Homo sapiens: one gene and its partners. The protein of the gene in region 4 interacts with the protein of the main gene of each other region in a pairwise test. Each region holds a gene or a part of one and is shown on either strand. Other genes may lie near its edges.

Evidence for each region.
Region 1: the proteins of CHAT (region 4) and PPP1R16A interact in binary tests that used the Homo sapiens proteins (3 or more experiments, as listed by UniProt).
Region 2: the proteins of CHAT (region 4) and FOXA3 interact in binary tests that used the Homo sapiens proteins (3 or more experiments, as listed by UniProt).
Region 3: the proteins of CHAT (region 4) and CCDC141 interact in binary tests that used the Homo sapiens proteins (3 or more experiments, as listed by UniProt).
Region 5: the proteins of CHAT (region 4) and WT1 interact in binary tests that used the Homo sapiens proteins (3 or more experiments, as listed by UniProt).
Region 6: the proteins of CHAT (region 4) and CIMAP1D interact in binary tests that used the Homo sapiens proteins (3 or more experiments, as listed by UniProt).
Region 7: the proteins of CHAT (region 4) and TRIM69 interact in binary tests that used the Homo sapiens proteins (3 or more experiments, as listed by UniProt).

Annotation. Positions count from the first base shown.
Region 1 is NC_000008.11:144,480,982-144,484,481, reverse strand, and holds part of PPP1R16A (protein phosphatase 1 regulatory subunit 16A), read right to left. Parts: intron 1-3,500. UniProt on the Homo sapiens protein: Inhibits protein phosphatase 1 activity toward phosphorylase, myosin light chain and myosin substrates.
Region 2 is NC_000019.10:45,867,326-45,870,811, forward strand, and holds part of FOXA3 (hepatocyte nuclear factor 3-gamma), read left to right. Parts: intron 1-3,486. UniProt on the Homo sapiens protein: Transcription factor that is thought to act as a 'pioneer' factor opening the compacted chromatin for other proteins through interactions with nucleosomal core histones and thereby replacing linker histones at target enhancer and/or promoter sites.
Region 3 is NC_000002.12:178,865,138-178,868,637, forward strand, and holds part of CCDC141 (coiled-coil domain-containing protein 141), read right to left. Parts: intron 3,069-3,500; coding exon 2,889-3,068; intron 780-2,888; coding exon 630-779; intron 1-629. UniProt on the Homo sapiens protein: Plays a critical role in cortical radial and GnRH neurons migration during brain development. Regulates cortical radial migration by negatively controlling the activity of histone deacetylase 6 (HDAC6) and promotes centrosome maturation.
Region 4 is NC_000010.11:49,612,598-49,616,836, forward strand, and holds the start of CHAT (choline O-acetyltransferase), read left to right. Parts: upstream 1-1,439; 5' UTR 1,440-1,592; coding exon 1,593-1,878; intron 1,879-3,425; exon of another isoform or gene 3,426-3,455; coding exon of another isoform or gene 3,456-3,495; intron 3,496-3,904; coding exon 3,905-4,005; intron 4,006-4,239. UniProt on the Homo sapiens protein: Catalyzes the reversible synthesis of acetylcholine (ACh) from acetyl CoA and choline at cholinergic synapses.
Region 5 is NC_000011.10:32,425,540-32,429,039, forward strand, and holds part of WT1 (Wilms tumor protein), read right to left. Parts: intron 3,081-3,500; coding exon 2,958-3,080; intron 2,520-2,957; coding exon 2,417-2,519; intron 1-2,416. UniProt on the Homo sapiens protein: Transcription factor that plays an important role in cellular development and cell survival. Recognizes and binds to the DNA sequence 5'-GCG(T/G)GGGCG-3'. Regulates the expression of numerous target genes, including EPO.
Region 6 is NC_000019.10:464,984-468,483, reverse strand, and holds part of CIMAP1D (protein CIMAP1D), read left to right. Parts: intron 1-721; coding exon 722-835; intron 836-3,500.
Region 7 is NC_000015.10:44,764,028-44,767,527, forward strand, and holds part of TRIM69 (E3 ubiquitin-protein ligase TRIM69), read left to right. Parts: intron 1-3,203; coding exon 3,204-3,500.

The DNA of each region.
Region 1 (3,500 bases), on a different chromosome or scaffold from region 4:
CAAAAGAAAGGGAAGAGAGGGCAGGGAGGGCTCCTAGCAGCCCCTGCAAATCACACCTTTCTAGAAGCCAGGGCCACAAGCAGCCTTCCCTATGAACTGCCTCATTCAGCCTCATAGCTCTAATGGGCCATAACCCCCACGGAGTAGATGTGGCAACTAAGGTCTGTCAAGTACAATGGTGAGGAAACCAAAATCACAAAAGTGAGCTTCAGAGGGGTCGGCGCTGTAACCCAGGATTTGCTCTGACTCGGTATTCACTTCCTCACAGAGACACAGACCTTTCGGTCTAGGTGGGGCTGTGGGAAGGGGACCTGCGGACAGACGTGCCAGTGGCACAGGGCCTGGGAGTGTGGAAGGAGGCAGCACTGGGACCGTGAGGGTCCCCAGCCTTAGGACAACAGAGGTGTGGGGTCTAGACAACCAACCTAGGGCGCAGGTGACACAGTAAGCCACTGAGATGCCTGTGAGCCTGGGACAGGAGCTGGAAAGGCATTTCCAAGAAAGAGAGCTCACAGTCAGCCAGCACATTCCTAGAAGTTGGAAGGAAAGATGGTAGGAGCTGTCAGAGCAGAGAGATGAGCAGGGGAAGGTGGCCAAGGAAAAAGAAAACAGGGAAGGGCTGGGCATGGTGGCTCACGCCTATAATCCCAACATATGGGAGGCCAAAGCAGGAGGATTGCTTGAACCCAGGAGTTTGAGGCTGCAGTGATCTCTAATCACACCACTGCTCTCCAGCCTGGGCAACAGAGCAAGACTCTGTCTCAAAAAAAAAAAGAGACCGGGCGCAGTGGCTCATGCCTGTAATCCCAGCACTTTGGGAGGCCAAGGCGGGTGGATCACCTGAGGTCAAGAGTTCGAGACCAGCCTGACCAACAGGGTAAAACCCCATTTCTACTAAAAATACAAAAGCCGGTCGTGGCGGCATGCACCTGTAGTCTCAGCTACTCAGGAAGCTGAGGCACGAGAATCACTTGAATCCAGGAGGCAGAGGTTGCAGTGAGCCAAGATGGTGCCACTGCACTCCAGCCTGGGCGACAGAGCAAGACTTCGTCTCAAAAATAAATGAATAAATAAAAAGAAATAAAGAAAACAGAACGACACAACACATAGGATGACAAAGTTCAAAAAATTCACGTGATGAAGGAGACTGATGATGCATGAAACAGGAGGAAAGCCTTTGAACTTGAAGCCAGCCAAGAACATCATTTGTAGGAGGCAGGAATTGGGACACTGGACCCACAGATGAGGAAACCTACTTTACACACACTGCCTGGTTCTGTAGATAGAAAGACTGACATGTGAACATCGTTACAGAACAGAACGTAACTCTGTCAGCCACACAACATAAAAAAGAAGGCATATCCTACTTCTGGGTACATACGCAAAAGAAATGAAAGTTGGGCCGGGCGCGGTGGCTCACACCTGTAATTCCAGCACTTTGGGAGTTGAGGGGGGCGGATCACCTGAGGTCAGGAGTTCAAGACCAGCCTGGCCAAAATGGCAAAAACCCGTCTCTACTAAAAATACAAAAAAATAAGCCGGGCGCGGTGGCTCACGCCTGTAATCCCAGCACTTTGGGAGGCTGAGGCGGGTGGACCATGAGGTCAGGAGCTCAAGACCATCCTGGCCAACATGGTGAAACCCGTCTCTACTAAAATTACAAAAATCAGCTGGACGTGGTGGCGGGCGCCTGTAGTCCCAGCTACTCGGGAGGCTGAGGCAGGAGAATCGCTTGAACCCAGGAGGCAGAGGTTGCAGTGAGCCTAGATCACTGCACTCTAGCCTGGCGATAGAGTGAGACTGTCCCAAAAAAAAAAAAAAAAAAAGTTAGCTGGGCATGCTGGCATGTGCCTGTAGTCCCAGCTACTCGGGAGGTTGAGGCAGGGAGAACTGCTTAAACCCGGGAGGTTGAGGCAGGGAGAAATGCTTAAACCCGGGAGGTTGAGGCAGGGAGAACTGCTTAAACCCGGGAGGTTGAGGCAGGGAGAACTGCTTAAACCCAGGAGGTGGAGGTTGCAGTGAGCCAAGATTGTGCCACTGCACTCCAGCCTGAGCAACAGAGCAAGACTCCATCTCAAAAATAAGTAAATAAAAATAAAATAAAAAATAAGAAAACTATAAACTGGCCAGGAGCGGTGGCTCATGCCTATAATCCCAGCACTTTGGGAGGCTGAGGCAGGCAGATCACTTCAGGTAGTCTGGCCAACATGGAGAAACCCCGTCTCTACTAAAAATACAAAAATTAGCTGGGTGTGGTGGTACATGCCTACAGTCCCAGCTACTTGGGAGGCTGAGGCAGAAGAATCGCTTGAACCCGGGAGGCCAAGGCTGCAATGAGCCGAGATGACACCACTGCACTTGGCAAGACTCCATCTCAAAAAAAAAGGCGGCGGCGGCGGCGGCGGCAGCCGGGCACAGTGGCTCACACTGGTAATCCCAGCACTTTGGGAGGCCAAGGCGGGCGGATACGAGGTCAGGAGTTCGAGACCAGCCTGGCCAGCATGGTGAAACCCTGTCTCTACTAAAAATACAAAAAATTAGCAGGGCATGGTGGCAGGCGCCTGTAGTCCCAGCTACTCAGAAGGCTGAGGCAGGAGAATTGCTTGAACCTGGCAGGCGGAGGATGCGGTGAGCCAAGATCGTGCCACTGCACTCCCGCCTGGGCAACAGAGCAAGACTCTGTCTCAAAAAAACAAAAAAGAAAAAAGAAAAAGGGAATCAACTACGGATACACAAAACCACTTGAATCTCTAAAACATTGTCATCTGGCAAAATAAATCAGACACAAAAGTATTCATTCCATATGATTCCATTGATGTGAAATTATTTTATTTTTTGAGATGGAGTTTCGCTCTTTTTGCCCAGGCTAGAGTGCAATGGTGCGATCTCGGCTCACCGCAACCTCCGCCTCCCACGTTCAAGGGATTCTCCTACCTCAGCCTCCCGAGTAGCTGGAATTACAGGCATGCGCCACCATGCCTGGCTAACTTTTTGTATTTTTAGTAGAGACAGGGTTTCTCCATGGTGGTCAGGCTGGTCTCGAACTCCCAACCTCAGATGATCCACCCGCCTCAGCCTCCCAAAGTGCTGGGATTACAGGCGTGAGCCCCCACGCCCAGCCAATGTGAAATTCTTAAAAAGGGACGCCAAACCTACAGTAATAGAAAGCGATCACTATTGCCTGGGCTGGGTGTGAGGAAGGGCTTACCACAGAGGAGCACGAGAGAACTTTTGGGGGCAACGGAAATGTTTTATATTTGGATTATGACGTTGTTCACAAAACCCATCAAACAGGCCGGGCGCGGTGGTCACGCCTGTAATCCCAGCACTTTGGGAGGCCGAGGCGGGCGGATCACGAGGTCAGGAGATCGAGACCATCCTGGCTAACATGGTGAAACCCCGACTCTACTAAAAAAATACAAAAAATTAGCCGGGCGTGGTGGTGGGCGCCTGTAGTCCCAGCTACTTGGGAGGCTGAGGCAGGAGAATGGTGTGAACCC
Region 2 (3,486 bases), on a different chromosome or scaffold from region 4:
GAGAGCCTGCATGGGGGAAGGGAGTAACTGTGGCTGCAATTTCACTGTAAGACTTGGGGTGAGGGGGAATGGATTTGTTGAAGGGAGGGAGATAGATAGATAGATAGATAGATAGATAGATAGATAGATAGATGCATGGATGGATGGATAGATAGATTGATAGGAAGATGGTGGCTCGTCATGGTAGCTCATGACTGTAATCCCAGCACTTTGGGAGGCCGAAGAGGGTGGATCACTTGAGGTCAGGAGTTCAAGACCAGGCTGGCCAACATGGTGAAACCCCATCTCTACTAAAAATACAAAACTTAGCTGGGCATGGTGGTGCATGCCTATAATCCCAGTTACTTGGGAGGCTGAGACAGGAGAATTGCTTGAACCCAGGAGGCGGAGGTTGCAGTGAGCCGAGATGGAGCCACTGCACTCCAGCCTGGGTGACAGAGTGAGACTCTATCTCAAAAAAAAAAAAAAAAAAAGACAAGAAGATGGGCTGAAGGAGGAAGAAAGGTGGGAGTTGGGGTTGGGAGGGGAGTGGGGTAGAGTCGGATAGTGAGAGAGAGTGCCCAGGAAGGGAGAAAGAGATGGAAGGATGGAGAGAGAGACAGGGGCCGAGATGGAGGGGAAAGAAAGATGGGAGAGGACTCGGGAGGGGTCGAGGGTGGGCAGGAAGAGCAAAAGAGGTTAGGGTGGAGACAGAAGGGAAAACAATGCGGGGGTGGGGAGGGAGATGGGAGAGGGGAATATGGGTACTAGTACTGAGACGGGTAACACAACGGCAAAAATAGCCAACAGAGATTCAAAGAGACATGATGAAAGAGTTCCTTGGAGAGACATGAAAAGGAAAGAGCAGAGGATTTCTCGACTGGAACTCAGACTTAGGGTTGAGTTGGTTGCCTCCACTCTCTGATTCCCTAAGCCACCCTGGCCAGACTCGTTTCTCCGGACCTTGTGACCTGCAGAAGCTTACAGTGGTAGGGCCAGACATGGTGGCTCATGGCTATAATCCCAACACTTTGGGAGGCCGAGGCAGGAGGATCACCTGAGGTCAGGAGTTCGAGACTAGCCTGACCAACATGGTGAAACCCTGTCTTTACTAAAAATACAAAAACTAGCTGAGTGTTGTGGTGCGTGCCCGTAATCCCAGCTGCTCGGGAGGCTGAGGCAGGAGAATCGCTTGAACCTGGGAGGCAGAAGTTGCAGTGAGCTGAGATTGCACCACTGCACTCCAGCCTGGGCGATACAGTGAGACTCTCTTAAAAAAAAAAAAAAAAAAAAGCTTACAGTGGCAGGAGACTAGGCGGTATCCAGTTAACTCACATTTGGTGGCTCTAGCCAGTGCTGTATATAGCAGCATTCCCCCACCCACGCAGTGCCATGAGACCCCAGGCCTCGGAGGAGGCAGTGGGGAAAGGTCCAGGTGGAGAATGGGGCAGAGAGGATGGGAGACAGTGGTTGAGAAGGGATAAGTAGATACAAAGAAAGAAACAACCTTCCAGCATGCCTATGTTTTCCTGGCGTGTTCTGTTCACTGTTGTGTTCCTGCTAGACTGTTGGCACCACGAGGGCAGGCATTTCTGTCTGTCTTAGTCACTGCTTTTATTTTATTTTATGATTATTATTTTTTGAGATGGAGTCTTGCTCTGTTGCCCAGGCTGGAGGCAGTGGCACGATCTTGGCTCACCACAACCTCTGCCTCCTGGGTTCAAGCAATTCTCCTGCCTCAGCCTCCCTAGTAGCTGGGATTGCAGGCATGTGCCACCATGCCCGGCTAATTTTGTATTTTTAGTGGAGACGGGGTTTCTCCCTGTTGGTCAGGCTGGTCTCGAACTCCCGACCTCAAGCGATCCGCACCCCCACCCCCCCCACCTCAGCCTCCCAAAGTGCTGGGATTACAGGCGTGAGCCACCGCAACTGGCCTAGTCACTGCGTTTATAGCGTGACCCGGAACAGGTCTGGAGCCAGACTGCCTGGTTGCAGAATCCCAGTTCTGCCCCCATTCTTGCTGTGTGACCCCAGCAACCTCTCTGGGCCTCAGCTAGCTCAGCTGTAAAATGGGCATCATCATAACACCTCCTCCCATAGTATGGTTGTCAAGATTAAAGGAGACCATTCTTGTGAAGTGCTTGGAGCAGCTAACTGATAAATATTGGTTGAATGAATGAAAGAATATACAGAGGGTTACTTAGGAGGCACTGCAAGATCTACCGTGTTCCATTGACCTAGGATGCACCTTTTCCCCCCATTTGAACATTTCCAAAAATGGGATGCATTTTACAGTCAACAGTGTCCTATGATTTTAACTGAGTGTTTTTCCCATTTGTATTAATATATAAAGTAATGCTGCAGCTTCCAGAGAAGTCTTAGATTTGAAGATATATAGTAAATGGATAATATTATTAGGTTGAAAAGTGATTTCTGATATTCAAACACTTTTATGTATAAATACAGTAATTTATTTTTATTTATTTATTTTTTTTTTTTGAGACAGAGTCTTGCTCTGTCGCCCAGGCTGGAGGGCAGTGGTGCAATCTCGGCTCACTGCAACCTCCACCTTCTGGGTGCAAGCAATTCTCCTGCCTCAGCCTCCTGAATAGCTGGGACTACAGGCGCCCGCCACCATACCTGGCTATTTTTTGTGTTTTTAGTAGAGACAGGGTTTTGCCATGTTGGCCAGGCTGGTCTCGAACTCCTGACCTCAAGTGATCCACCTGCCTCGGCCTCCCAAAGTGCTGGGATTACAGGTGTGAGCCACTGTGCCCAGCCTAAATGCAGTAATTTTATAAGCTAAAAGATTGAAGAGAGCTACACATATATGTTAGATATGTTAGATTATTACAGAGTTATAATAACTTTTTTTTTTTTTTTTTGAGACAGAATCTCACTGTCGCCCAGGCTGGAGTGCAGTGGCATGATCTCAGCTCACTGCAAGCTCCACCTTCCGGGTTCACGCCATTCTCCTGCCTCAGCCTCCCAAGTAGCTGGGACTACAGGCGTTCGCCACCACACCCGGCTAATTTTGTTTTTGTATTTTTAGTAGAGACAGGGTTTCACCGTGTTAGCCAAGATGGTCTCGATCTCCTGACCTTGTGATCCACCTGCCTCGGCCTCCCAAAGTGCTGGGATTACAGGTGTGAGCCACCGTGCCCGGCCTATAATAACTCTTTATGATTACTAAAATTGAGAACTGCTGATTTACCTAATAAACCAGCAGTTATTAAATGTTTTGGTCTCAGGACCACCCCCCTTCTTTTTTTTTTTTTTTTGAGATGGAGTCTTGCTCTGTTGTCCTGGCTGGAGTGTGCAGTGGCATGATCTCAGCTCACCGCAGCCTCAGACTCCTGGGCTCAAGCGATCCTCCTGCCTCAACCTCCCGAGTAGCTGGGATTACAGTCCTGTGCCACGATGCCGGCTGATTTTTGTATTTTTGGTAGATAACAGGGTTTTGCCACGTTGCCAGGCTGGTCTTGAACTTCTGACCTCAAGTGATTC
Region 3 (3,500 bases), on a different chromosome or scaffold from region 4:
TGTGGAGGTGCATGGATGTAGAAGATCACTTTGATCTGTTATTTCTTTTTTCTTGAAGAGTTGTTTTGCCAGAAAAGCCAGTCAGTTTGAATAAATATGAAACCAGCCACTTGACCTCAGTGCTAATACTTCGTAGCCTCCAAAGCAAAGTGTCTGCTCCCTGGCCCCTGGCACCATTGATTCACCATGAGTCAATGACCCTTAAATAGAATTTCAGCAGGCTGGAGTTGGCTGCAACGAACTGGTCAATGTCACCCCTTCCTCTGGGTCCTGAAAAAGCTGTATCCACTGAAGCAAATGACTGCTATACAGGTTTGAGGGAGAAGGGGGAAGCAAAAAACAAATAAACAAAAGCAACCAAAAAAACTGTACTACTGAATTATAGGTTTTTCTATGCATTGACATCATACTGACTTCAACAAATTTGAGAGCTTGAAGTTTACTCAAACTTCCAGATCCCTGAGGTCACTGCTCAGTGGATTAAAAGAAATAAGTGAGAAGAAAGTCTCCTGATTCATTGTGTGTTTGCATGTGTGTGGGAGTGTGCACAAATGTGGACATTTAGACACATGCTTTAGGTTCAAACAGCTTTTTGGCAATGTGCCAGTTCTCACCCCTCCCACACCCACCTCATTTATCTCGTCTCTCATGGCGCAGTACTCCACACTACGGGACAGGGTCCGTCCATACTCCTCAGCTTTGGCACGCCACTTCATGCTGTCCTCCTCAAGGAGCTCCAGCTGCTGCTGTAGGTTCTTTGCAGAAACATTAGAGCAGTGCTAAAAGAGACAAATGGTGGTAACAGAGAGAAAGGACGAAACAGCAATAAGACGAGTAGGCTATTTACCTGAATTATGAAACTCATAAATGACACTTTTTAAAAAAAGAAATAGGTTCCTGATTTATTTTACCTTAAACATATTTGAACATAATTATTTCAGAAAGAAGCCAGTCACCCAACATTATGGAAAAGACATTTCCCAGCTCAAATCTCTAGTGTTGAAGATTCGCTCATCACACCCAACTCCTCAGAGACGCCATTCATTATAGGGTATAATTTTTACTTCAAAAGGCATAAAATATGCATTAGAAACATTTGATTTCTGCACTATAATTTTCCTGTCAACTTGAGCCTAACCTCAGGTTCATTATGCAAGTGCTCCAATCTCAGCTCAGCACAGTGGGGCTGCCAGGGCCAAGGCCAGAAGAGGATTGGAGAACAATTTACATTATTTGCACAAAGTGAGACTTCTTGCTTTCTTTTTCTTTTAAAAATAAATGTACTAATAAAATAAACTCTTTAAAAAGAAAGCTCTTTCCTGGCAAAAAACCAATTCCATTAACAACAACAGATAATTTGTATTTCTATATCTTTCAGTTTAAAAAATACATATTTTAGATTCACTGCATTTCATATAGTTTAGTGGATATCTTACATGTATTTTAAAATAAAATGGGCCATTATGATTTTATTAATGTTATACCTATTGTTAGAGTAAACATAATCTTTTCTCCCCTCAAGTTAGAAATCTGGAAAAGGATTTTTTTGTTTTGTTTTGTTGTTGTTGTTGTTTCTGTTTTTTTGTTTTGTTTTGTTTTTTTGAGATGGAGTCTTATTTACTCTGTCGCCCAGGCTGGAGTGCAATGGCTGGATCTCAACTCACTGCAACCTCCGCCTCCTGGGTTCAAGCGATTCTTCTGCCTCAGCCTCCCAAGTAATTGGGATTACAGGCACGTAATACCACGCCTGGCTAATTGTTGTATTTTTAGTAGAGACGGAGTTTTGCCATGTTGGCCAGGCTGGACTTGAACTTCTCGGCCTCCTAAAGTGCTGGGATTACAGGCATTAGCCAATGTGCCCAGGCTAAAGAAGGAATTTTTTTAAAGAATCAATGTCCAGTGTATTATTGATGAAAATTTGATCTGGGAATATTTCCTTCTCTTTTAGGCCTCTCTTTTGAAGTCCGACAGTGGCATCAAACAAATCCAACCAGCCCTGGCTAGAATCAGGAGGCTTGGACTCCTCCATTCTGGGCTTTTATGGGTAAGGTGGGAATTTCTGTTTGCCTCAAATTCTTCATCCATAAAATGATAGCTCTGGCCTGGATGAACTCTAAGATCTAGATGGTCTTCCAGATCTGCAATGCTAAAACAGCACTGGCCAACAAAATGTGAACCACACAAACAATTTAAAATTGTCTAGTAGTCATATCAAAAAATCAAATAAAAAGATAGAGCAAAATTAATTTTTATAATACAATAACCAACTATGTCCAAATATCACCATTTTAACATGTAAGTAATATAAAAAATACTAATGTGATTGCTTTTCATAATACCTCTTTGAAATCTGGTGTGTATTTCATACTTTGAGCTTCCTCATTTGTTGCTAAATTTCGATCAGAAATATTAGATCTGTATTTTAATTTTTTAAATTTACAGTTTCGAAAGTTGATTCCCATACCCAAATTGCTCCCAACATACTTAAAAGTTGTCCCATAACTATACTGAAGATCAATTTTTAAATTTATATTTAAATTAATGCAAGTTAAATAAAATTAAAACTTTAGTTTTTTAGTTGCATTAGGCACACATCAAAGGCAAAAAAGTGACTGCCACACTGGACTATACAGATCTACTATATAAATACTCTTTAAAAATTTTTTTTCATGAAAATAGAGGTATTCAACAAGACTTTTACATTCAGATTTTCTACTTAAAATTTTTTCTTTTGTCAGAGGGTAGAAATGAATCACAAATAACTACCCCAATGGTTTAGTTTATTTTTAAATTTAACATATACTAAGCAATCTGCCTGGTTTCTTTCATATGCTAGCCCAAGCCCCAGCTAGAACTGAGTCTAAATGATAGTGTTATTAGATGCTTACAGGCCGCTGCACTGATGAGATGATGTCGACTCCTAAGGAAAGGGCCAGTCTGTGGAGATGGTCTACACGGGCTTGCTTTTCCTGAGAGCACCGGAGGTGAATCTGCACATCATGGGCATCACCCAGTTCCTTCGGCTGCTCTACAAACTCCAGCTCTCTTGATTTGATGAGACGTCCCAGCTACAATTTAGGGCATTAACAATTAACCTGGGTTTTATATGAAGACAAATTTTTTTTTAAGCCTAATTTCTATAGCACATTTTGCTAGCTGGTCGAAATGCTGCCAAGCCCATCTTTAAACTGTTGGCATTAGCCAAATAAATGTTAGAATGCTGCAAATCCAATGGTGGTAAAATTGAACTGCTAACGTTGTCAGTTCCATTAAAGAAGGAAACAGTCTTTTTGGTCATGACCCAAAACCTTAGCAAGATCTAGGTCTGTGCTCTGAGTAAATTTAGAGGCTATTTTAAAGGGATATTAACGAATATTCCTCCATCTTATGTTAATAGAGACCATAACTATGAAGTTTTTGTAAAAATGCCACCAACAAATAGCACTCCATGATGTCAGGTACTTGAAGTGCAAAAAAAAAAAAAAAAAAAATCTAACTTG
Region 4 (4,239 bases):
CTGCGGCTCCCCTGTGTAGAGCCTGCATCTGTCTGTCCTTCCTTCCATTGCTCCCAGTGCCAAACTTGGGCCGCTGCACCGCGGCGCCTCCGCCCAAATCAATAAACTGTGTCTGTCCCAGGAGGCCGAGTCTCTTTACTGGTGGGGGGTGCGTGGAGGCGCGCAGGGCCAGAGCAGAGGGGAGGGTGAACTGGGTCTCCAAGTCCCAATCCAGACCTAAGCCAAACTAACACGTAGGCACCTGTAGCTGTTTTTCTACCTGGAAAAGGGGATAGGAAGGAAGCAAACCCAACAAAGGCTGTCACCCACGGTCACCAAGGAGCACCATGCTCCCCTCAGCCCAGGATAGACCCTCTTTTCCAGGCCTAGCGCAGAGCCCGGGGATGCCGCCCGGGGGAGCCTGAGGACCCGCTCCAGCTAGGCACGCCAGGCCCCGCCCTTTGAGGACACGCCCCACACCAGCCTCAGAGCTCTGAGGTGCCTGGGCTGAGCTTCCCTTCAGACCAGAATCCCGCCCCGTTGAGGCTTTGAGAAAGGAGTAGGAGCCGAGCATTCCGGCAGAGGAAGAAAAACGGCCCATCTTTTAGAGTCCGACCTCTGGAAATGTGTGTATGATGTGATGTGTGTGTTCATTAGAGAACTTGTCCTAGGAGGAGTGGGGGAGCCGTGGTTGGTGTTTGCTGTATCCCTGTCAGTCCCGAGGGTCTGAGTCTTGAAGGGAGAGATGCGAGTGTGGGATCTGGTGCCAACCCCCACTGCCACCCTGTCCTGAGTGGGAGCAGCGGCCCAGGACTGTCAGGAAAGTTTCCCATCCTTAGTCCCAGCCCTGAGAGCCTCAAGCCAGCGTTCGCGCAACACTCCATGTCCCGAAGACCGTAGTCTGATGATCGAGGCAGAGTCTTCCCATCATAGCGTGAAGAGGCGGCTGGTCAGGGTCGCCTGTGTGTTAGCTGCGCCTGTGAGGGTCTGCTCTGCTGTTGTGCGCATGTCTGTCCTCGATCTGCGAGTCGGGCTGTGTGTGCCTGGGCGGAGTCTGCCTTTGTCGGTCTGTCTGTGCTATTTCTGTGTGGGGGTCTCTATCTGGGGTGGGGGATGCTTTTGTCTGAGAGGAGAGCCTGCCTCTTGCCGCAGTCCTTAAGCATCCTCAGGTCTGCCATCAGGATTGTCCCAAGTCTGTAGCACCCCACCTCTGCTCCCCACCCCATAGTGCCAGCAGGAATGGGATGGTAACAGAAAGGGAAGTCCTGCAGTGAATATTGATCCCAGTTATTGTTTCTTATTATTATTTTGAAAGATGGTGTAGCAGGGTTTGAGACTGGCCTGGATGGTGGGGAGAGGAGGGCAGCGAGCAGAGACTTCCTCAGACCCAACCCTCTCCAGGATTCAGCAGCAGCACCCCAAGGCTGGAATAATGGGGTTGGGGAAGTGCGGTGACTGGGAAATGCTGAGCTAGGGGCAGGAGGCATGGGCGGGACAGTGTTCTGTGCCCCCTTCTAGAGCCTAAATTTGTTGCCCGAGTTCCTCCGGGAAGCGCTCCGGGTAGATTCTGGGGGCCGGGAGCTGAGATCCCTGGGCGGGGAGCTGGGGAAGGGATGGGGCTGAGGACAGCGAAGAAGAGGGGGCTTGGGGGAGGGGGGAAATGGAAGAGAGAGGAGGGAGGAGGTACAAGAGGAAGGAGAGAAGTGCGGCCAGCTTGCTTTCTCCAGTCGGGTGGCCGCGGGGACCCGGGCGACGTCGGAGGCCCTGCCGGGAACCCAGGCTGCAGCCCCCACCCCCGCGCTGCGACACGCCCCCCACCCCTTCCGGCTCACACCCCCGCCCACACTCCTGAGTGGTGCGGTGCAGCGTCGGCCGAGGCAGCAGAGCCGAGGAGAGCAGGTGAGAAGAAGGGCTGGGCTGGGCTGGCGGAGCGCGGTGCCGGGAGCAAGGGCGGCGGTCGGGGGCTCTATCCAGGGACAGCACCGGGGCCGAGAGGCCCCAGGACTCGTGGAGTCCTCTGAGTCCTGCGCAGCAGCGGCCGTCGGGGGTCAGCTAGGAAGCTGCAGGATTGCGTTGCTTCGGTGCCTGGGCTTGGGGAGGCTTAACCATCAGGGCTTCGGGACTCCAAGCGCATGTTCTCACTTCACTTGGCCCAGCATCTGCTAAGTGACCAGGTCCGCGCTTTCTGTGTCTAGTCGGAGGGTCCTTGGGTCTGACCCGACTCGCCTGAATTGCTGGTTGGCAACCGCTTCTCCCGGGAGCAGGGGGTGGGGAAGGAGGAGCAGTGGCTGGTGGCAAGTCTGAGCCAGGACATAGCCGATGACAGCCTGTGAATGACCGGCCAGACTGGGGTTGGACCTTCGGGGCAGAGCAGGCAGCCCTTGGAAAGCCAGGCTGGCAGGAGCATGGGTGGGAGGCACAAAACACAAACAGACATATATACACATACATCCTCTAGGCATCTGCCCAGGAGTGATGGAGGAAGAAGAGTTGGTAGGTGGGACCACCAGGAAACCATCCCACCCAGCTCTGCCTTCTTCAAGCTCAGGGTCCCTGAAGCCTGACTAGTGTCTCCCGAATGGGGGGGAGGGGGGGGCTCTGGGCCAGAGCAAAAGGAGGCATTGGCTGCATGGTCTGTAGGGCCTTTACCAACCTGACCTTGTCCTTGCTGTCCTCTCAAAAGACTGCCATGCTCCGGTGAATCCTCACCAGGACGCCACCTCTTTCACTTTGCAGTTGGGGGCAGCCCCTACGAACCCACAGCACTGGGAGGCGTGGGAACAAGCCTGTGGAGAGTGTCCCTGCACTGTGCCAGCAAGGGCTTTACATTCTCTGCCCAGCACTGCAAGGCAGCCCCAGGCTCCTCCATCCTTGGGCCTGGTTCATCCATCTTTCTGGACTCTCTGTTCCTGGCAACAACCCTGCCAGGTGCCCATACATGGGCGGTGCTTGCCTCTGGGTAGGGGTGGTGTTGGGTGGGGAGAGGGGTGAGGAAATTAGCTAAACCTCAGCTTTAGACTTGAGAGAATAGAGGGTGGGCTGGTGGAAAACATGAGTATGTGCCTGTGGAGGCTTAGGTTCAGGGGGATCTCAGAGGGTAGCAATTGTGACCCACAGCCTAATAATAACAGTCTTTGCCCTCTTGGCCTGGCTCACTTCTACTGTACCTTCAAAATTAATCTGCCTCTCCCCAGACTAAGGCAGGTGGCCCCTAGGGGCCCTGGCTGCCCAGCCTCCCTGCATACCTCCCTGGGCACTCCTATGGCATCTACACTGGCAGCCTGCAGACCCGAGACTGCCTAGGTCACAACGCCTCCAGCAGGCCCAGAGTCTCCCTGCCCTGGCCACAGGCCAGGCTCCCAATTAGCCCAGATGCATCCTGGAGCACAGGGCCTTAAAGGCCTCCATTCACCCACGCATGCATTCCTTTCCCTCCACCAACGGAGTGAGGGAATTCACCCTACTCCACACCAGAGATGTGGCCGGAATGCAGAGATGAAGCACTGAGCACAGTAGGTATGGTCTTACCCTTGAGAAGCTAGTGGGAAAGAGAGAGTTTGATTGGCAAAGCACTTATCTATTGGGTTCCAGGCAGGAACAAAGGCAGCACTCTGCCAGCAACCCCTGGTGGATTTGGATTGCCCCAGGGTGGTCAGCTGGCCTTGGGTGACAACAGACTCATGAGAGCAGACCCTCACTTTAGGAACCACTCTCTCCCATATGGGGGCCCAGAGAGAACACTGTGGTCAGCACGTACAGGTGGAAGTAGAGACTGGGGCCACGCCTGCAATGAGACCCCTATACACAGCTGTCAGGCTCTGGCCTCCTCATGGGGCTGGGGTGGGGGTCTGTTGGCGGGAGGTGGAGGGTTTGTGACAGGCCTATGTGGCTGCTGTGTTGATGCTTCCCACTTCTTGGTCCCCAGGTCCACACCTCTGCATCCCTGCACCAGGACTCACCAAGACGCCCATCCTGGAAAAGGTCCCCCGTAAGATGGCAGCAAAAACTCCCAGCAGTGAGGAGTCTGTGAGTGACTTTTGGAGCCCTCTCTCAACCCTGCTTTCCCCACCTACATGCCCTTGCTTCTAGAACAGTCCTGAGTGGGACTGGCCCCCAGCATTTGCCTGGCCCCAGCCCTGCCCTCTACTGGCACAAGGCCCAGGCTACAGCTCCACCCCCAGCTTGCTGAGGATCCCAGAAGGGCCTGGAGGGGCTGAGACGGGCCTCAGGGTGCCAAGGAAATGCTAAGAGCTTAACTTC
Region 5 (3,500 bases), on a different chromosome or scaffold from region 4:
TTTAAAACATTCCTACACCTGCCCATTCATCTTTAGACTGCAAGGGAAGCACATGATCTTTGAAAACTGAATGGAAATGTTAATTTAGAGTGAATGGAGCTTTCAAGATCCAGACAGCACAAATTCCAAGGGAACAAACTCTTCCTACAGGGGTCACAAATTCTTTTTTGAGATGTTACTACTTGGGAAATTTTCTGTGAGAGGGAAAAATAGTATTTTTATTGGATTTGTGTAAAAATAACAGGACCAAAGAAAGTTCCTCAATTATAAAGAAAGAAGATAGAAATAAACAAATACTTCTGAAAGGTGAATTTGATGAAGTGCTTAATACAGTGGCCAATCAGAAGCTGGATTAGAAAACGTGAAAATTTATGTGATGTTTCCTACTTCCCTAGCAACCACAAAATCAGACCTAAGTCAAAATCCACCATAGGCACCCTGGAGAATTGCTATTAAACCAGTGGTAATGATCGCTTTTTCCTGGACTCCTCTTTCAAGGCTGCCAGGTCCTCTGATGGACCCCTTCCTAGGGTCCCACAGGGTGAGTCTCGGCTTGGGAGAGGGAAGTAACGGATGTGTGTGTAGCTTCGAGTCACTGAGGCACCAGACTGCAAGGTCTTCCAGTCCCCAACCCCCAAGAACACCTCCCATATCGACAGTGCCCACTCCCGCATCAAGGTCTTCTCTCAGCCTAGTGTGACACACCAACTGAGTCCACAGGGAGCTAAGGAGGAAGGGGTGGACCAAGGTCATTACGTGGGAACCATTCCAACAGCCCGCCTGATGGCTACTAGAATAACAGCAATGACACCCTGGCAATGGGCAGGAGCAGCTACACAAGAAGAATGGCAATGGCCCCGCTGCCAGTTTTGCTAGGGAAGGAGATTCACCTCAGAGAATAGGTGCGAATCCTGCCCCCATTCCAAAGACTTTACCCACCGAAGGGAGGCGCTGAGGTGGCAGGCTTGGGGCAGCATGCCGCGCCTGTGGTGCAGAACAGGAATGATTTCTAGCTAGGGACGCAGAAAAAGAAGGATGGGGAGGTGCGACCATTGGTGTTCTTGCCCACCGCCTGCCTCCACCCGCCCAAAAAAAGTGTGATGAGGAATCCAAGTTTCGAATAGATAAACCGGATGTTCCGGGGGAAAAAAAGGAAAAAAAAAGGTTTCTCCAGTCCGCGCGCCTCAGGCGTTAGAAATAGAAGGGGCGCATCCCTGCACCTCTCTAGAAACTCCCGGGAAGGAGAACCTTAGATGCGAGAGCCAGGCCAGCCCCGGGCTCACTCTCGTAAAGGCAGCAAGGGCCTGGGGCTGCGCCTCGCTCCGGATCGAGGACTCCCGCCCCTCCTCCACCTGCGGGACTGGACAGTCCCCCAGGCGCGGCCACTCCCCCACCCAATCTCCCAGGGCAGGCGCTTTTCCTTCCTTCATGACCTCACTACCTCCTTCCCTTGACGTCAGCCCCGGGTCCCCGCGCGGAGGGGAGGGAGGATGGGGATGGGTTTGGGGGCAGCCGGTGTCAGGATCCCCGAGCACCAGGGAGGAGGGGGCTATGAGGTCATGCGCGCCCAATCCCGGGCCGCACAGGCCTCGCGCTGCTGCTCCCCGGCCCCCGCCCCAACTTCCAGCCCCGTGCGGGCTGGTGTGCGCCGCAGTTACTAGGCAACCCTATCGCAGACGCGGGCGGCCGGCCAAGTTCACCCAAAGTTGAAGAAAAAATTTGGGGGAGAGAAGGTGGAGCGAGAGGCGAGAAGAGGAAGCACGGAGCGGGGAAAAGCTTGGAAGGGAATGAAGCTGGCCTTGGGCCTCCCGCTCACAGGAAGAAGGTCCCACGCGGGCCAGAGCAGCCTCCCCGCAGGGCCCTGTTGCGACCCGATCTCCGTCCTGCACCCCGGCCGGGGGCCCACCCCAGAGCGTAGCAGGGGCGCTGGGAACGACGTCCACAAAGCGCTGCCACGGGTCGAAACCCTGGAGGGTTGAGGTGGGGAGAAGGCTGTGGCCAAGGCTGTGGCCGAAGGTACGCGCCTTCGAGGTAGTCTGGCCGGTGTGGCCATTGGATGGGTTTGAGGTCTCAGAACCGAGTGGGAGTGGACTCCGTGTTTAATATTTAGTCCCGATGAAGGTAAATTCCTCCCAGTAAAGACCTTCTAAAAATAATAACTTCTCGAGCGCCGCTCCTTCTTCAGCTCGAAAGAGTAATTGTCCTCATTTTTATACAACATAAGAACAACTCAGAGACCAGGGAGATCAGCTTTAATTTCCTCTAAGTAGTAGAGTGGAGTCGAGGCGTCTCGTGCCTCCAAGACCCTGCATGCCCGCAGTCAGGGCTGCCCGGCTGGGGCGTTCCCAAGTCCGCCGGCTCATGCGTCCCCTCCGGGGTCCCAAGGACCCAGACGCAGAGCCCAGCGCCTTCCTACCTGCTGTAGGGCGTCCTCAGCAGCAAAGCCTGGCTGCCGGTGCAGCTGTCGGTGGGGGTGTGGCAGCCATAGACCGGGGGCGGCACCGAGTACTGCTGCTCACCTGCAGAGAGAACCGAAGACAGCTGAGCGAGTGCGCCCCAAGGGCTCGGGGTGCGAGGCTGCGGGCAGGGGTTGGGGGAGACACGAGATCCTGAGCCTGGGGCACTGGGGCCTGGATGAGCGGCGTGCAGAGCGAGGCCGTCCAGAATGCAAGAAGCTAAGCCTCTCACTTTGCATTCCCCTAGCAGTCGCTGCGCTGTGCACCAAAAAGGCCCTCCGGACATTCATAGACTTAGTTGGATGGCGATGTCCCTAACGTACTTGGGATGGAGGGAGACCCAGTCTTGTCCTTTAAATACAGTGCCATTGGGGTAATGATTTCTAAGGTCCTTTTAGATGTCCTCCTTTGCCTAATTTGCTGTGGGTTAGGAATTCCTGGGGGAGAGGAGGATAGCACGGAAGAAGGGGAGAAGGACTCCACTTGGTTCCGCTCGCTTACCCAGCGAGCCCTGCTGGCCCATGGGATCCTCATGCTTGAATGAGTGGTTGGGGAACTGCGCCGCATGGTGCGAGGGCGTGTGACCGTAGCTGGGCGTCCCGTCGAAGGTGACCGTGCTGTAACCTGCGGGAGCGGCGGAGAGAAGCACAGTGTCAGCGGTGCTCTCGCAAGACGGGGCAGTGGGTCTGAACCAGCCACGGGCGGGGGGGGTGTGCGCTGAACCCCGCATTCGGACCCCCAGCGGAGGAGAATCCAGCCCCACAAGCCTCCAGGACTTTCGGCAGGAAGACGGCCCAAGTCCCTGGATGTGACCTTGGGACAGGCTTCTCCATCCTTTTCTGACTAAAACCCCCACCTCGCTTTTTCCCAATTTATTTATGCCGCAGTCTTCTACGGTCTCTGCCGCTTCTGCAGCGAACCCCTGGCAAATTAAGTATAAAACTCGTTGCCTGATCGACAGAGAAGGTTGTTCACCCCCCAAAAATAAACTGCAGCTCTTCCGCAGGAGCAGCGCGGGCAAGCGAAATGAATCTGCTGGGCTAA
Region 6 (3,500 bases), on a different chromosome or scaffold from region 4:
TGAACGTGGTCCAACGCCGAGCCCCCCTCTTAAGCATGCGACCTGCCAGCAAGCCGAAGCCCTGGTTCAGAGCCTAGTCGCTCTTGTCACTCTTTATGTGCAGTTTTTTTTTTCTTTTGAGACTCCATCTTGCTCCGTCGCCCAGGCTGGAGTGCAGTGGCGCGATCACAGCTCACTGCAGCCTCAACCTCCCAGGCTCAAGTGATCCTCCCCCTTCAGCATTCCGAGGAGCTGGGACCCCAGGTGCATGTCAACATGTCTGGCTAAGTTTTAAATTTTTAGTAGAGACGGGATCTTGCTGTGTTGCCCATGCTGGTCTCAAAGTCCTGAGCTCAAGTGACCCTCCTGCCTCGGCCTCTGAAAGTGCTGGGATTACAGGTGTGCACCACCACACCCAGCCTAATTATGTCCAGTTCCAACAAACCCACGAGCTGGTTCTCCAGCCCACACCTGCGCAGAGGTTAGAGGGGCAGAGGTGGCTACAAACAGCAGCAGAGCAGAATCACTTTGACTGTGAGGAGACAGAGTCAGAGCAGAGACCTGAGGCACCCAGTTCAGGCAGCCACAACTCAGGGCCCCTGGGGTGACCCCTCCGAGATGGGACTGGGGTGGCCTCTGACCTGGTGGGAGTGTCTCGGGGCCAAGAGGGGCACTGAGGCCGGGCGGTGGGGCAGGCACTGTCTTCAGAATCACTCTCAGCACTCTGGGCTCCTCTCCCCAGCACCACCTCAGGACACCAGCCCGGGCCCCATCTACTTCTTGGACCCCAAAGTCACACGCTTTGGCCGCAGCTGCACCCCTGCCTACTCCATGCAGGGCCGGGCCAAGTCTCGGGGTGAGTACTGGAGCCAAGCAGCCGCACAAGGACCTGCTTTCCAGGGTCTCAGCGACTCTCCTGCCCTGTCCTCCCTCCCCCTCTTATCCTTGGAGTTCTTAGAATGCAGAGTCTTTGGAGTGATCAAATCCAAGGGACACGGAGGAGGGGCCGCCACTGCAGTGCCCACTGGGGCTGGGAGAACTGAATGAGTGAAGTGGGTCAGGATGACAGAGGCCCTGGGCACACATGGCCACAGAGGCAGCTGGCCTAGGTGTCAGGAGGTGAGAGGTGAATGGGGACTGTGGCAAATCGGCAGTATCCTTCACAGGCACCCAACAGTTTGCCCGCACACCTGACACACCTGCCTGACTCCATTCTCCCATCCACCTGCCCACTCACCCACCATCTATCCATCCACCCTCCACCCAACCATCTACCCACCCGTCCATCCACCCTCCACCAACCATCTTTCCACCCGTCCATCCATTCATCCATCCACCCACCCACCCAACCACCCACCCATCCATCTATCCACCCGCCCATCCACCCTCCACCCAACTATCTATCCACCCGTCCATCCACTCATCCATCCACCCACCCACCCACCCATCCATCTATCCACCCATCCTTCCACCCTCCACCCAACCATCTATCCACCCGTCCATACACTCATCCATCTACCCACCCACCCAACCACCCACCCATCCATCTATCCACCCGCCCATCCACCCTCCACCCAACCATCTATCCACCCGTCCATCCACCCTCCACCCAGCCATCTATCCACCCGTCCATCCACTCATCCATCCACCCACCCACCCACCCACCCATCCATCTATCCACCCATCCTTCCACCATCCACCCAACCATCTACCCATCCATCAATCCACTCATCCATCCACCCACCCAACCATCCACCCATCCACTCATCCATCTATCCACCCATCCATCCACCCTCCACCCAACCATCTATCCACCCGTCCATCCACTCATCCATCCACCCACCTACCCACCCACCCCTCCATCTATCCACCCATGCTTCTACCATCCACCCAAACATCTATCCATCCTTCAATCCACTCATCTATCCACCCACCTAGCATCCACCCTCCCAACCATCCACCCACCAACTCATCCATCTATCCACCCATCCATCCACCATCTACCTAACCATGTATCCACCCATCCATTCACTCATCCATCCACCCACCCACCCATCCAGCCATCTATCCACCCATCCATCCACCATCTACCTAACCTTGTATCCACCCATCCATTCACTCATCCATCCACCCACCCACCCACCCACCCATCTATCCACTCATCCATCCACCCTCCACCCAACCATCTATCCACCCATCCATCCACTCATCCATCCACCCACCCACCCATCCATCCACCATCTACCTAACCATGTATCCACCCATCCATCCACTCATCCATCCACCCACCCGCCCACCCACCCATCCATCTATCCACCCATCCATCTACCATCTACCTAACCATGTATCCACCCATCCATTCACTCATCCATCCACCCACCCACCCATCTATTCACCCATACATCCACCCTGCACCCAACCATCTATCCACCCTTCCATCTACTCATCCATCCACCCACCCATCCACCCACCCATCCATCTATCCACCCGTCCTTCCAGCATCCACCCAACCATCTATCCATCCATCAATCCACTCATCCATCCACCCACCTAGCATCCACCCACCCAACCATCCACCCATCCACTCATCCATCTATCCACCCATCCATCCACCCGCCCATCCACCCACCCATCCACCCACCCATCCATCCATCTATCCACACATCCATCCACCATCCACCCACCCACTCATCCATCCACCCACCTACCCATCTGTCCAGCTATCCACCCACCCACCCATCTATCCACCTACCCATCCATCTGTCCATCCTTTCACCTACCCACTCATTCATCTATCCACCCACCCACCCACACAACCATCTATCTGCCCATCCATCTACCCACCCACTCATCCCTCCACCCACCCATCCATCCACACACCCATCCACACACCGACCTGCACCCATCCACCCACCCACCTGCCTGCCCATCTACCTATCCACTCATCCATCTATCCATCCACCCACCTACCCATCTATCCACTCACCCATCCAGCCAACCATTCACCCATCCACTCACCCATCCACCCACCCACCCATCTATCCACCCACCCACTCATCCATCCAACCATCTACTCACCTACCCATCAATCCACACACCCATCCACCCGCCCATCCAACCACATACCCATCCATCCACCCATCCACCTACCCATTCATCCATCCACTCACTCATCCATCCATCCATCTACACATCCATCCATCCCCCATCCACCCACTCATCATCCATCCATCCATCCATCCATCCACCCATCCACCCGCCCCTCCTTCCACCATCCACCCAACATTCTATCCACCCATCCATCCACTCATCCATTGACCCACCTAGCATCTACCCACCCAGCCATCCACCCACCCACCCATCCATCCATCCACTCATCAACCCATCCATCCATCCACCCACTCACCCATCCACCTATCCATCCTTCCACCCACCCATCCATCCATCCATCATCTATCCACCCATCCACTCACTCATCCATCCATCCATCCGCCCACCCTCCCACCCATTCAGCCACCCAC
Region 7 (3,500 bases), on a different chromosome or scaffold from region 4:
TTCACTGCATGCATGTGCAGATTAGTACTCAGCCACAGCCTTGAGAGAATCCCTTTGTAGATGTTTGTAAGTTTCTGTGAAGTTCCCTCCTCTGTGTTACTCTGCTTAGCAAATTGTAGCTGCCTTGGTATGACAGAGTTTTTCTTCCTGTATACTTTGCTCTGTAAAGCCAAACTTCACTTCTAGCAATCTTTTAAAATGCAAACTGATTTTTAAATTTTTGGTATAATTTTACATCAAGAAAACCAAATGAGATTTATTTAATATATGACTATTTATTAATAATGTATTATTTATCCATATACTCTCCCTCTATACAGAGTGGGAAATTGTTTTTCTATGGTAACTGTGGTCAGACCTTTGTAAAATATATTCCATACTTTTTATTTCTAAGTCTTTGCTTATTTTGTAGATCCATATATTCTCCTTTTCTGCCAGCCTTATAAATTAGGCTGTTGCTTTAGAGCAGGAGCTGGCACTTTTCTGTAAAGGTTTGAAGAGTAAATATTTTAGGCCTTGCAGGTGTATGGTCTTTGTTGCTGCTACTTAACTCTGCTCTTGTAGTGAAAAAGAAGCTACAGACAACATATAAATGAATGGTCATAAATGTGCTCCAATAAAACTTTACTTACAAAGTAGGCAGTGGGTCAGATTTGACCTGTTGGTTGTAGTTTGCCTACTCTAGCTTAGGGAATTTTTCAATTTAAAATATTTGCATGAACAAATGCCCAAATAATGTGGAGTGAACCATATGGGGAAAAAGCATTCTAGGACAAGGGAAGAAATTATAAGGACCCTGAAGTAGGAATGATCTTCATTATGTTCAAGGAACTGCCAAAAGACAAGGGTGGATGAATCAAAGTAAATGAGGGAAAGTGTGGTAGGAGATGAAGTAGAGAGGTAGGTAAATCATGTGGCTCTTTTTTCCTCTATAAGGACTCTGGATTTTATCTCAGATGTGATGGTAAACATAAGAGTATGCTGAGCAGGGAAATGGCTTGATCTCATTCATGATATGTGTAGAATAGGGTGCAGATGGGCAAGAGAGGAAACAGAAGAGTAAAAAGCTATTGCAGTAGTTCCAGGCCAGTGATATTTCTGGAAGTAGTCAGAAGTGTTTGGGCACAAGATATATTTTGAAGGTGGAGCTGACAGAACTTTTCGTTATATGAACGTGGCATGAGAAGGAAAGAGAGGACAAAAAGCTGACTCATGGGAATCTTCAGAGCCAGTGCAGGCTGAACTAGCTAGAGATGTGTCAGAGGCTTAGCAAAGAGAGCAGAGTGGGATTCCAAAACGTTGCTAAAAAGTCTTTATGGTACCTCCAAAGAAAACCCAGTCCTCACATCAGAAAGATTAACAACCCAAAGTGAATGGGGATATGTAAGGGGATAGGGATTTAGCCTATATGGAAAAATTCAAGATTCTTAATTCTTCAAAGCCTCTTGTTGGAAAGAGAAGTCCCTGGGATAATGGAAAAGACTCAGGCTTTTCTGAGAAGATAGAGTTAGACTAGAGTTCATGACTAGCCTGGCCAACATGGTGAAATCCTGTCTCTACTAAAATTACAAAAAATATCAGCTGAGCGTGGTGGTGCATGCCTGTAATCCTAGCTACTCAGGAGGCTGAAGCAGGAGAATTGCTTGAACCCAGGAGGCGGAGGTTGCAGTGAGCCGAGGTTGTGCCACTGCACTCCAGCCTGGGGGACAGAGCAAGAATCTATCTCAAAAAAAACAAAACAAAACAAACAAACAAACAAAAAAAAAACAGAGAGAGAGAAACTAGATTGATTCTGCTTCCAAGGATAAATAAATCCAATAACAACAAATGCATGCATACATGTATCTGTGTCCATGGTGTGCACACACATAGCTATTAGGTCTCCTTTATCAAATTTCATGTCAAGGTCCAATGATCTCACATCTGGAATTTGTGTCATCCTCTTGCTGGTCAGCTTTCAACCTCTCTTCATTTAGTTTAGATATTCTTTTTTATACTGCTGCCCTTTGAATTGTCTAAACCAATGCTTGTAAAATTATCTGTGATGAAGGGCCAATCAAAAAAATCTCAATCTGTCATGGACTGATACTTTTGTAGAATACAATATAAATTACTTGAAAAAGTAAAATTAAAAAAAGCAAAGATTACAAAGTACAAGCCCAATTTTGTAATTATTAGATTCAACTGACATAAAATTACTGTCAATTTGCTATGAAAGTTTTTAAAAGTTTACTGTTAATTTCTATACTATCTTTGTCCGAGACTGTTAACCACATGGTATGTGGACCACATTATGAGTAGCAATGACATAAACCACTCTAGATCTCAAAAATCTCATTATCTGTTAAACCAAAATAAACCTCTCACTATTGTCCTCTAAACTCTGTACCAGTTAGTTCAGTCTTGCCTGTGTCTAACAGGCAAGCTCTTGTGTTCTCTTCCACACAGGGGACTGTTTTTAATCCATTTCTTTCTTTCCGTTTATTCAAAACATCCTAAATACATCTCATGTATATACAACTGAATACTTACCTTCCTCAGAAAGCTTTCCTAGAACATCCTTACCTAATTTTTACCCCTTTGGCATTTGTATTTTCTTATATTTATTAGTATAGGTTTATATTATTTGTATTGTTTCCTTTAGTAGAGCATAAATTACTTCTGAGTAAACCCTGATTTTTACCCTAAATATAAAAATGTCTAGAATATAGTAACATGGATACCCAAACAATAAAAAGCATGTAAGTGGCCAGGTGCGGTGGCTCATGCCTGTAATCTCAGCACTTTGAGAGGCCTAGGCAGGTGGGTTGCTTGGGGCCAGGAGTTCAAGGCCAGTCTGGCCAACATGGCGAAACCCTGTCTCTACTAAAAAATTACAAAGATTAGCCAGGTGTGGTGGCACACACCTGTAATCCCAGCTATTTGGGGGGCTGAGGCACGAGAATTGCTTGAACCCAGGAAGCGGAGGTTGCAGTGAGCCGAGATCGCACCACTGCACTCCAGCCCTGGGCAACCTTGTCTGCCTCAAAAAAAAAAAAAAAAAAAAAAAAAAAAAAAGCATATAAGTAATTGCTTGCCTGTCTAAGAGTCTATGTGTATGGGGAGATAAAGTACTATTGAATATGAAATACTATCTTTTACTGTGGGAATTTGTGTTTACCCCCCTTTCTCCCATGCTCTGCTTTCTTTTATTTTCTTACTAGGCCTGTCTCCACTAACTCTGGACCCTAAAACAGCTCACCCAAATCTGGTGCTCTCCAAAAGCCAAACCAGCGTCTGGCATGGTGACATTAAGAAGATAATGCCTGATGATCCTGAGAGGTTTGACTCAAGTGTGGCTGTACTGGGCTCAAGAGGCTTCACCTCTGGAAAGTGGTACTGGGAAGTAGAAGTAGCAAAGAAGACAAAATGGACAGTTGGAGTTGTCAGAGAATCCATCATTCGGAAGGGCAGCTGTCCTCTAACTCCTGAGCAAGGATTCTGGCTTTTAAGACTAAGGA